Regions from separate parts of the Homo sapiens genome. Here region 2 is linked to region 1. The links come from fine-mapping of genetic effects on gene expression. A gene starts in region 1. The other region holds a variant in brackets. All regions are shown on one strand. Distances are from middle to middle. Region 1 holds the start of TRHDE (thyrotropin releasing hormone degrading enzyme). Region 2 overlaps TRHDE (thyrotropin releasing hormone degrading enzyme).

Region 1 (5,373 bases):
GGGTTTAAAAAATATTTTTAATCTGTATTCTTTAGAACATGTTGGAGGAAGTGGTAGAAGGGGGTTTAAAATATCCATATCTAATGTCAGGAGTAAGAAAGTGAATAATTTATACATTCACTTATAGGAGGTTTTAACTATCATACAGCTACTAAAGCATTGGGCATTTTATTTATAGGAGGTTACTTCATAGAACTCTATAAATAATAAAACTTTTGCTTACTTTCACAACACATTGCAATTTCCCCAGCCTCTTACACAATAACTTCTTCTGAGAGTTTCCAAACACCATAAGCTCTGTCTGGTCCAGGGATTAGAGAACCAAAGTTCAAGTCCTAACTCTCCACTGACAAGCCTGCTCACCTCCAGGGCCCTGGGCTTCTCCGAGCCCATTTTCTGCTGTTGTGAGAATCACCTGAGAAAAGGAGAGGCTCTGCCTCATTACTGATCTGTAACCTGCCTCCTCTTCTAAAGTTGTTGGTTTAATTTTTAAGCTCACTTTGGTTGTTCATCTGCCCTCAGTCATTTAATTAATCTAAGTTATCTTAGCAATGTGGGAATTAGAGCAAAGAACAAGAATCACTTATTCATTCAACAATATACCTGAGAGCTTACTGCCACAAGACACTCATGAGAGCTAGCATTTATGGTGGATACTCTATATGCCAGGCACAGGGGTAAGTACTTTGTAATGCATTCACTCATAGACGTCTACACCAATCCTACAAGTAGAATATTATTATTGGTATCCCCAAGTTAGAATTAAAAGTCTAGGCTCAAGAGCCAGACTCCCTGGGTCTAAATCCGTGCTTTGTCTGCTCACTCTTGGTGATCTTGATCAAGCTATGTGACACACCTGTGCCTCCATTTCCCCACCTGTAAAATAGGGAATGCTGATAATAGCGTCTACCTCATAGGGTTCTTGTCGGATTGAGTACATGGGCGTGCAATAAGCACTAGAAGTAGTCATGTCAGGAAAAGGTTAATTACCTTCCTCAAACCTCCACCAGAGTTAGATGAACAGCAGAGATTCGAACTCAGTTCTATTGGATTATGAGGTCTGAGCTCTAAACAAGTGGTGAAAAGCTCCACGGCCTCTCGGAAATTTTTTATAAAAATACAAAACTACACAAATGTAAAACGCGGCAAAGACACTAACAAGGCATTTGAGACTGACAACTAGCTTTCCCACCGCTTGGCCACTGGAATCATCTCCAGAGGCAGCAACTCATAAACAAACAACCGGAGTCGCCCTGCCTTAGCACAGAGCTGGCAGCGCCCGCGAGGCCACTTATCGCTGGCTCTGGCCTTGGCAACCTCCACCCCCGTCCCGGTCCTCTCAGCCTATCTCTGGAAACCACTCTTTTCACTCCGAATCTCAACTTGAAGTTTGGGGAAACTTGACGCAGCCAAAGCCCATCCTCTGCTCTGCACCTGGCAGGAGACTAATAGTCAGGGAAGATGGGCATGTTGTGGGTGGGGGTGGAGAACGGTGTGTCCCTGACCTGCCCTGACATGCTAACCTGGATGCGCTGTTGTCTTGGCCTTCAGCGCCACGTATTTTCCCTCGACAGTAACTTGGCAAGCTTTTCATGTCACTCTGGCATCGCTCAGATTATCAGCTACCCTTCAGAAAAAGAGCCCTGCGTTTCGATGGCTAAGGAACTCTGACAGGAAGAGGAGAGGTCCCGACTAGAGGAGGGGGCAGCATTCATCTTTTGGCACCGGTGAGTCAGTTTGCGAAGTTGGCGGCAGCGAGACCCCGAGGCATCTGGGAGACCCCGGAGTTCTGACTGCCCTACTCCGCTTTCGTTTCCTTCCCCCCACCCCTGGCTTCCCGGGTATTGGAAGCCAGCTGGGTCCCCGGGGTCGCAGGCCGCCCAGAGGTTCGAGCCGCGCGCCGGGGTGGGGCAGCGCGGGGCACCGCCTCCCTCCATACCTTCTCTCCCCGTGGAGCACATAGGAGCTGCGGAAGAAGCCCAGGAGCTCATTCTCGATGAGCGCGTTGTAGATAATCTTCAGATTGTAATTCCTCTGCGCGTCCAGTGTCCTATTCAGCACCACCACTAAGACCTGGGTTTGCGGGTAGAGGAAAAAACCGGCTACAGGGACAGCCCCGAACGCCCGGTCCTCGGCCAGCTGCACTTTCTCCACCGCCACTCGGGAAGCGTGCAGCACTACGTAGCGGGTGGCGTTCCGGCACGCGATCTCCACGTTGACCTCCCCGGAGAAGGTGAAGTTCTCCATGAAGGCGGTGAGCATCAGATTGTAGTGCAGCGGCTTCAGGTGGCCCGACAGGCGCAGCTGCGTCCACGGCTCCCACGGCTCCCGCTCCTCCTCCGACGGCGGCTGGGCCGACGTGGTCCCCGGACTGGCCACCCCACCCGCCTCGGGCTGCCAGGAGTCCCCGCCTGCGTGGTGGTTGCGCCGGGCCGATCCAGGGAGGCTCCCGTTGCCGCCGCGCTCCGGAAAGCCTGAGGGGCCACCGTCGGCGCCTGGCGTGGCACTCGCCCCGCACTCGTCGAAGCGCAGGCTGAGCAGCACAGCGAGCATTGTGACCGCGAGCAATGCCACGAGGGACACAGCGAAGGCCAGCACAAGCCGCTTGTGTACGGCGATGTGGCGCTCCGTGGTGCGGGGTCGCACTCCCACTGAGTCTGCCCACGGGTCGGAGAGCCCCCTGCTGCCAGCCCGAAGCGCGGCGTCGTCTTCCCCCATCGCGGCTGCGAAGGGTGAGCTGCTCTTCTCGGCCCCCTCCTCCTCCTCCTCCTCCTCCTTCTTCTTCTTCCTCTTCTTTTTCTTCTTCTTTTTCTTCTCCTCCTCTTGCTCCCCCAGCTCGCCGTCCAGGGCCATCACACCGCCTCCTCCTCCTCCCCCGCCCCCTCTGGCACCCCCCGCGGGCGGGCCACCCGGGCCACAGCCAGAGCAGGCATCGGAGAGCTCACGCGGGCCGAGGGCGCGCGACTGGGGATGCTGGCCCGGGTTCTTTTAAGACGGGTTCTGGACACAAGCGACGGCAGCTTCCGCGACCCCCATCAGCCCCGCCTCACTCTGGACACCGGGCTGTGAGCTCTGGGACGCGCCCAACTTGGAAAGCGTCTTGCTTGCCCAGCGCGCGCTACTTCTCGGACGAGCACCCGGCGGCGGGGCACATGCTGCCCCCGCCCCTGCGCGCCTGCGGCTCCCGGCTCTCCCTCCCCTGCGCCGCGCTCTCGCCTCGCTTTCCGCGGGAGCCTTCCAACCGGTTCTCGGCTAGGGAGAAGGACGGGAGCGGTGGGAAGAGCGAGGGTGTAGAGAGGGAAGTTAGGGCTTTCGCTTTCTCCCCCCACTCCAGCGGCGGCGTTCGGTCCTCTGGGTGGAATGTGCTCGCAGCAGCAGTGACGGCGGCCACAGCACGGGAGGCACCCGAGCCATACACCCTGCAGCTGGAGAGAAAAGGATGGCCGAGGTGGGAGAGACTAGAGTGAACCAGCAGGAGGAAGTCCCAGGGCCGCGAAGCTACGACGGAGATCCGTCCTGGAAAAGCCTTCTCCACCCTGGGCACTTTAAGCGGCGGTGGCGGCAAACGGCAGGAGGTTGCAGACCCGACAGCGAGACTCCCTCATTCCAGTCTTGCTCTGCCCTCCGGAGATGACAAGTGAGAAAGAAGTGTCCGGCCGGGCCATCCCCTTCAGGTAGATGAAGCTCTGGGTTTGCTCCATATCCCAAGGGGGAGAGCCGAAGTGCGTATGTCCGAGCGCGTGTGCATGTGTGTGCGCGTGTGTGCGTGTGTGTATATACACAGGCTTCGGGTTTAGATTGCCAGGGCTACTCCAGCTGCATTGAGGGACTGAAACTCCCAGAGAAAGGCAAAGGAGAGGGAGCGCGCGAGGAGGCAGGAAAGGCGGGAGGGAGGGGAGCGACTGAGCGGCAGAGGCAGGCACTGGGAGATTAGAGAGCTTTTCTCCGCTCTGTCACACCAGACACCCACAGCCACAGAGGGGGTTGCTGAGCCGCCTGCAAGAAGTACATTGTAAATCTTCAGCGCAACAAGCCCCGCAGTCACCCCTCTTCCTGACTCCTTAGCCCCACCGCGCTCCAGGGAGAGATCCTTGGAGCCTTTGGCTATTAACATAGAGAGCAAAAGAAGATCCTGCTAGGGAGATGTGGCTGTGTCAGATTTCACATCAAGCTCGCCAGAGGATTTGGAGGATTGTATGTAAATTGAAATAAATTCTCCAAAACCTGACTACATATATTACATTATACTGTGCGATGTGTCCAGGTGTGCAGTACTAAAATAATGTTAGCAATGAAGCATTAAAATCCTCCGGAAGTAAAGGCCAAAGCAAGGTGATGTTTTCCCCATAGGATAATTCCCATCTTTAGATTGGAGAAACGATTAACACACAATGTCTACAGTGTAACATTCAGGACCAAAACCCTGAGACTGAGAAAAGCTGGGCTTATTAGAACGGTGAACGAATACATTCCATGATTGGTCAGTTTTTCATTTCACCTAGCCATAATTACTTTCTTGCAGCTTTCCAGTGTTACCATGAACATTGTTTTAACTTTGTTAGGATAGTTATCAATAGACCAGTTTGCTGACAGCAGGCAGCATCAAAATAGGTTCATAGCCCATTGGCTGGTTATGGACTCTTGTCTGAGTATATTGGAGTTTAAAATTATACTGCAGAGTATGTATAAGTATGTGGGATATCCAACCTTCAGAATTTGTGCGAAGAACTCTAATTGGAACAATATTCAGAAAACAGCCACCCCAAAGGTGACATCTAGGAAGCAGGAGTCTCCAGTGTTTAGTAAAACAAAGTGTGATTGGCTTCTGGGTTAATTAAAAAAGTGAATAATAGAAAATTAGGTAATTCCTTTTTACATGTTTCTTTCATGTCTTCAAATCTTGAAGGCATTTTACAAATCATGTCCATAGCTATTTTCTTACAAAAAGAACTGGTTAATGCTTCTGGCTTTGGAGTACTGAAAATAGACAATTAAAATATTGTGTTTGGCTTTAAAAGCATGACCAAAGAGAAGAGACCAATTACACATTAACCTTAGCTTGATAACCACTAAAAACACAGCCCTGCTCGAGGAAGCCCTTTTTCATTTATCCCCAGATGGGATACATGCTCAATGCCATGCATTCTAAATGTCCATTTGAATCATTTTTAAATGATGATGAAAATAAGTGCCAGGGTGGGATTTTTTAAGCATGTTGTATGTGGGCCGTTAGCAACAGACCAAGGGAAATGCCACATTCTGTTCAAGTTACTTTTTTCTGCTCTGTTTTTAAATGTCTGTACTCTTGCTGTCCATATGTATCTGGCTGTATGCATTTTAAGAGTTGAGGAGTTGGGGTTCATTGGTTTGTTT
Region 2 (5,373 bases), 24 kb before region 1:
ATCCCACTGAAGTTACCTTTTCTTTATAAAACAGCGTCTTGTACCATGTAGTGCATGATAGTATGTTTATCTTGTCTTATTGTCTGGCTCCTAAATCCCATAAAAACAAAATCATTTAAGATGATGCTAAGCCCAAAGAGGACACTGAGTTGATTAAGGTTAATCAGAAAATTTAGAAATTTTTCCTCTCTCTGTAACTCAAAGTCCTACATCTATATGAACTTCTGATGAATTCTGCTCAGTCAGTTATCTCTTTGATCTTAATTATGACAGATTTTCCCAATATTTCAGTTCATTGTTGAACACGGTTGCTCAATATATATTTGTGGATGAATAAAAGAATGTTTTTCTATGGTTTTAAGATGACAGTAAGAAATGATTTTCAGTACCATGTGAACAGCACATATGGGTAGTGATTGGTTTTAGGCATTTGCCAGTTCCTCCCCAAATTAAACTTAATGAGAAAACAACAGCATCTCCCAGACCCAGCAAGTCTTAATCTTGCCATCTGGTCTGATAAGGAAGTCAAGAAACATTAGTAGATGGTAGTGATTGAGGACAGATCGTACTATTAGTACTTTTGCTATCTTCTTCCACTCTGAATATTCACCCTTATTTATCCATCTTAGTACAAAGGCCTTCCAAGAATAATACTTGATTCTTCAGGAAATAATTTGTCTCTTTGTTTCCTACAAGTCTCATCCCTAGAAATATTAATATATCTCAACAGAATGTCTTGGTTAATCTTCCTGAAATTTGATATCAAATCCTATAAGAACCATTTGAATCTGAGTGACATCAACCTTTAGAATATAATTTTGTCTTATCATTTCTTCTGTATCATGGTCACCCAGAGATTCTTCTCTGTACTGCAACACATTTGGTGCAAAAGTTTGGCCATTTTTTCATGCCAACTGCAACCTAAACTCCACTTGCTTGCCCAGACAGTCACTTAATGCCTATTCCTTAATCCTCAGGAAAGCTGAGCTAGACCCAAATGGCAGCCTTAATGAAACAGGAAAACAGATCCTGGTCAGGTAAATAATGGAGAAAAGAAATTGAGAGTCTTTTGACAAAGAGGATAAGACATTTTGTATTATCTCCATGCTTTTAAAGAATGCTCCTTATATAACCCTGAAGCCCTCCCAAGCTCAAATCCTTCAATGGTTCCCCTCTGCCTAAAGCATACAATCAAAACTCCTTAACATGACATACAAACCCCTTCATGATCTGGCTGCTACATAAACCTCCAACCTCATCTTTCACTCCTTTTTTCCTCAGTATTACACAACATTCTACCTCTCTTGGATTATAAAGGCTTGGCCAAAAACAGTTCTTTAAAGTAAAAGTCCTAAAGAACTGGAATGTAAAAGAAGAAGAAAGTCAAAAAATAAAAACAAATCTGAAGCCAGAAAGAAAAACTTTTTAATATTATCAGATTATATGCCATTACTTTACTCTAGATATGCCAGGACCTTATCTAAGAGACAACTGGACTGGCAACTCCCTCTGCAGTCACCCAAAATTCTACCAGGAAGAATAAGGGAAGGAAGATCACAGCCAGAATCATCTCCTTCCTCTCTACTGAAGGAAAAAAATAACTGGCTGTGCACCATGCAATCTATCACACACATTATCAAGTATAAACATACTGTAATCATGGATACACTGACCAAACTGTTCTGTTTTTTAGATTTGTTTGTTTTTCACTTCAAGCTCTTTCTATTAGCTTCTATTAGCCTCTTCAATATGTAGACTCTTAAACCTCAGGGCAGTTGATAAACTGTAGATTATATAACAAAACCCATTATTGTTCATCACTGAATCCACCATAAGCCAAAGCCAGTCACAAGGCGATGGAGATTTGCTGAGGCTTACTCCATTATATCAATATCCCAATGGAAACCTTGGGGCTCAATGGTTCTATAAGCTCCTCCATTAACTAAATTTGGCCTGCTCAGTCCTCCCTCTGTTCTGTTGTTAACATGTCCCTCCAGTCTACCATTCCGTCTGCCGCATAAGTAATCCTTTTTCTCAACACTTTTATCCTTTGCACAAACCCCTGACTCCCACTACTTCTGCCCACACTCTCATCCTTAAGCAGATCTGCTCTCATCCACCCTCAGAGGCAGAGAGAAGGATGAGCACTTTCTCAGCTTCTGCCATTGCTGCTTTTACACCACTGTTCCTCCACTTCCATGAAAACAACTCTCTTCTTTCAGTGTTCATGGCTTTCACTATTCCTATTTTCTACCTGGCCCTGCAGGTGACACTCTTGAACTTTTTTCATGAATCTGAAGCCTGATTTACAGCTTTTTCAGAGATTCTCCCAACCTGTTCAGGATCACCTCTCCATGTTATTGACGCTTGTTCCAACACAACCTTTTGGTTACTTTACTTTCTGCTCACTCCATGATTCTATCCTCAGTTCCCTTCATCCACCCAATTTTGCAATAACAGGCTTAAAATTCCACCAACTCACCCTGAAATCTGAAACCCTCCTCTCTATCACATACAATCTTCCCAGCTCATCCACTTCATATCTCTACTCTTATTTTACTTTTAT[G/A]GTGACTTGTAGTCTTCACCCCTGCTATCCATTTTTCTGAACATCACTTCCATTATGGGTTCACTTGCCTCCCTGCTTCTCCGGGTACCATGGCCAATGATTCCAATAATATATTTATGGTTACTCTAGATGTCTTACCCTCCTGACTGCTGGCCAAGTGTGCCTTGTCAATTCCCCAAGTTCAATCTCCCTACATTTGCTTTCTCTATTCTTATTCCTGGGTTCTTAAAACTTGCAGAAAGGCACAAAAGAGTGTTGCTATTTCCCCTACAGACACAAGCCATTAACATCAGGTAGCTCTTGGCTGCTTTCTGGAAACTTTCTGTTCTCTTCTTATAGATTCAGCTCTCCCATAATCTAAAGCTCCTTGGAACAGACTCTGCATAAATAATTTTCTTACCCCTTCTCTTAACTAGCACGCTTAAAAACAGTCTACAATCACTACATCCATTTCTTCATTCTACACTCACTCTGTAATAGAACCTATTGGCTCTGCTCCTACCACACTAATGAAATTTCTGGAGGTTCATCAATTTTATTCTTTTCTTTTTAACTTCTTAAACTCCTCGACTCTAATAAACTTCTGACCTGGCCATGTAGCCTTCTGATACCACTGCAGACCTGACTGGGTGACTCATGACTGGCTCAGGCATTTCTCTCATGCAGCAGAGGTGAGCTGGACATCATAAAAGCAATAAAGGCACCCACATGGCTGCAGACCACCGAGCCAACTCAGGCCCTACCTAGCTATCCTAGCTATGACTCAGCTATTACTAACAAATCAACAATACTCAGGCACTGCTTTCCTAATGGAGAACAGAGACAGTTCTTTGTCTTTCTGCTCACAGGAACCATCCCATTTCTCCTCAGAGTCTGCACTGGATTCAGTTCCCTGTTTAGTGGTAAACCTTTGCTCCTCAGTACCCAACTCTCTTTAGTAACTCTTTTCACTTACATCTTCCTGCGGATGTCCTTAAAAGTGATGATACTGGTATTGTAACATTTTCTATTTTTATTTCAATATTGGTCAAAATTACTTCTCACAAATTTTCAGGCTCCACATATTAACCTAGCCAAAAGATTTTGAAAACCCTTGACATGGTGGTATCTCTGATGGAAATTGACTTATTTAGACAACCAGTGGAATTTCACTGAGTATCTATCATTTTCTACATACAACATGAACTGCAGATCTTACAAAGATGGTGCCTACCTTCAAAGAGTTCACAGTCTAAAGGAGCTGGCAAGAAAGCTCTATGAACAGCAGAAAAACAGCTGTGAGAGATGAGTGTAAAAAGTTTTCAAAAAGTAGAGAGGAGGAGGATGACTATCACTTCCTAGGGTAGGAAGGAAGCCTCTACTTACATTCCTAAATAGATTGTAATCCAACTCTTTTGTTACTATTTATTTTAGTTTCTCTATGGACCATTATTACATTTGTAACGCAATCTTATTGGAATGTCTAATGACAACAGGACTTCTATTAGTAACGTGATTTAAAAAAAAAATAGAATACATGGTTAGAATACATTAACCTATACTCCTCTAATTCTCTCATTAAAATGAGACTTAATTTGTTTTCAGTAGAAAACTTCACAGAAGAGTCCTGTGTTTTAAGCGTATATACAGAATATCACATCTAGAAAAAATAAGCATCAGGAATGTGCATTATGTGTATATGTCTTGTACTTTCCTGGATGTGGGTATACATATATACATACCACCATTGTAAATTGTGTGTGTCCTTCCTATTGTAGTCAGTCCACACAATAAAATTAAACAGTATGTTTTGAGTACCTGTAGCAGTTTTTTGCCCAGCATCCCTTCTCTAAAACTTCCTTCTTTTTGCAATATATATTCCCATCCATGAGGTTGAAACAGAAGACACCATGTTCCTATCATAGTGACGGCAGCAGTGGGCCATCTGGAGCAGCTGCTGCCATCACACTGGCTGCATCAGGGAGGCGCGGCCAGGGCTGCCCTCTCCATGGAGCCCGCGAGAGCCAGGGACAAGCAGGAGCCCTGCCCCTTCTGAGCTGGGGTGGGGCTCCCCAGTGCTGCTGCAGCCGCCCAAACCACGCTGAAGACCCAGGTCTCCCTCTCCTGGAGCAGGCAGGAGCCCCGTCTGCAACCCCTCCCACCCCCCAACCACCCCCCATCCCCCAGCCACCCCCCACCACAGCTGCAGTCACCCAAACCACAGCTGCGGTCACCCAAACCACAGCTGCGGACTCAAGCATCCCTGCACTTTTGGGGGCCCAGGAAAGCCCCCCTTGCCCTTGCAGGCTCAGAAATGCCTGCTCCCACTGCCTGGCTTCTCCCTGCTGTCCTTGCCTGCTCCTATCTCGGAGCAAAGTCGGGGCAAGCTCCAGTGCTGTCACAGCACTGCTGGGTGTGCACATGCTCAGGGCAGTGTTGACACTCCAGCTCCCTGCCACCTCACCCCCCACAAATTTTGGGCACCAATGAGCATAGGAGGGAAGCCAAGGTGGAGCTGAGGGCAGCTTGATGCTGGCCTGCAGATACCCCTTGGCACTTATAGCCTGGGTGCCATGAACAGGCAGCAGGAGGCAGAAAGATTCCTGGGTGGAAGGGGGCGGGTCCCCAGTGAGCAGGGAACAGGCTGCCATCCCACAGACCAGAGTAGGGACTTGTGGTGCCTTTTCCCGGCCCAACCATGGCCACCCAATCAATGTACACTTCCTCCCCTCTGAGGCTTATAAGAGCCCCATGCTCAGCCAGAGCTGAGCAGACATCCAGACGACTGGATGCAGAGAGGAGCAACACACTCTAGGTCCTCCTCTGCT

The links.
Region 2: its variant is fine-mapped to the expression of TRHDE in aorta (GTEx, PIP above 0.99).

What each region holds. Positions count from the first base shown.
Region 1 is chr12:72,270,124-72,275,496 of GRCh38, reverse strand. TRHDE (thyrotropin releasing hormone degrading enzyme) reads right to left here and starts at 3,127. Exons shown (of 19, transcript NM_013381.3): 1 at 1,940-3,127. The coding sequence starts at 2,853. It overlaps TRHDE-AS1 (TRHDE antisense RNA 1), which reads left to right and starts at 1,988. Exons shown (of 2, transcript NR_026837.1): 1 at 1,988-3,674.
Region 2 is chr12:72,294,493-72,299,865 of GRCh38, reverse strand. All of the region lies in intron 2 of TRHDE (thyrotropin releasing hormone degrading enzyme), which reads right to left. Among named protein-coding and RNA genes, the nearest start is that of TRHDE-AS1, 24 kb to the right of the region's middle. The variant G/A (reference allele first, on the strand shown) is at 2,567.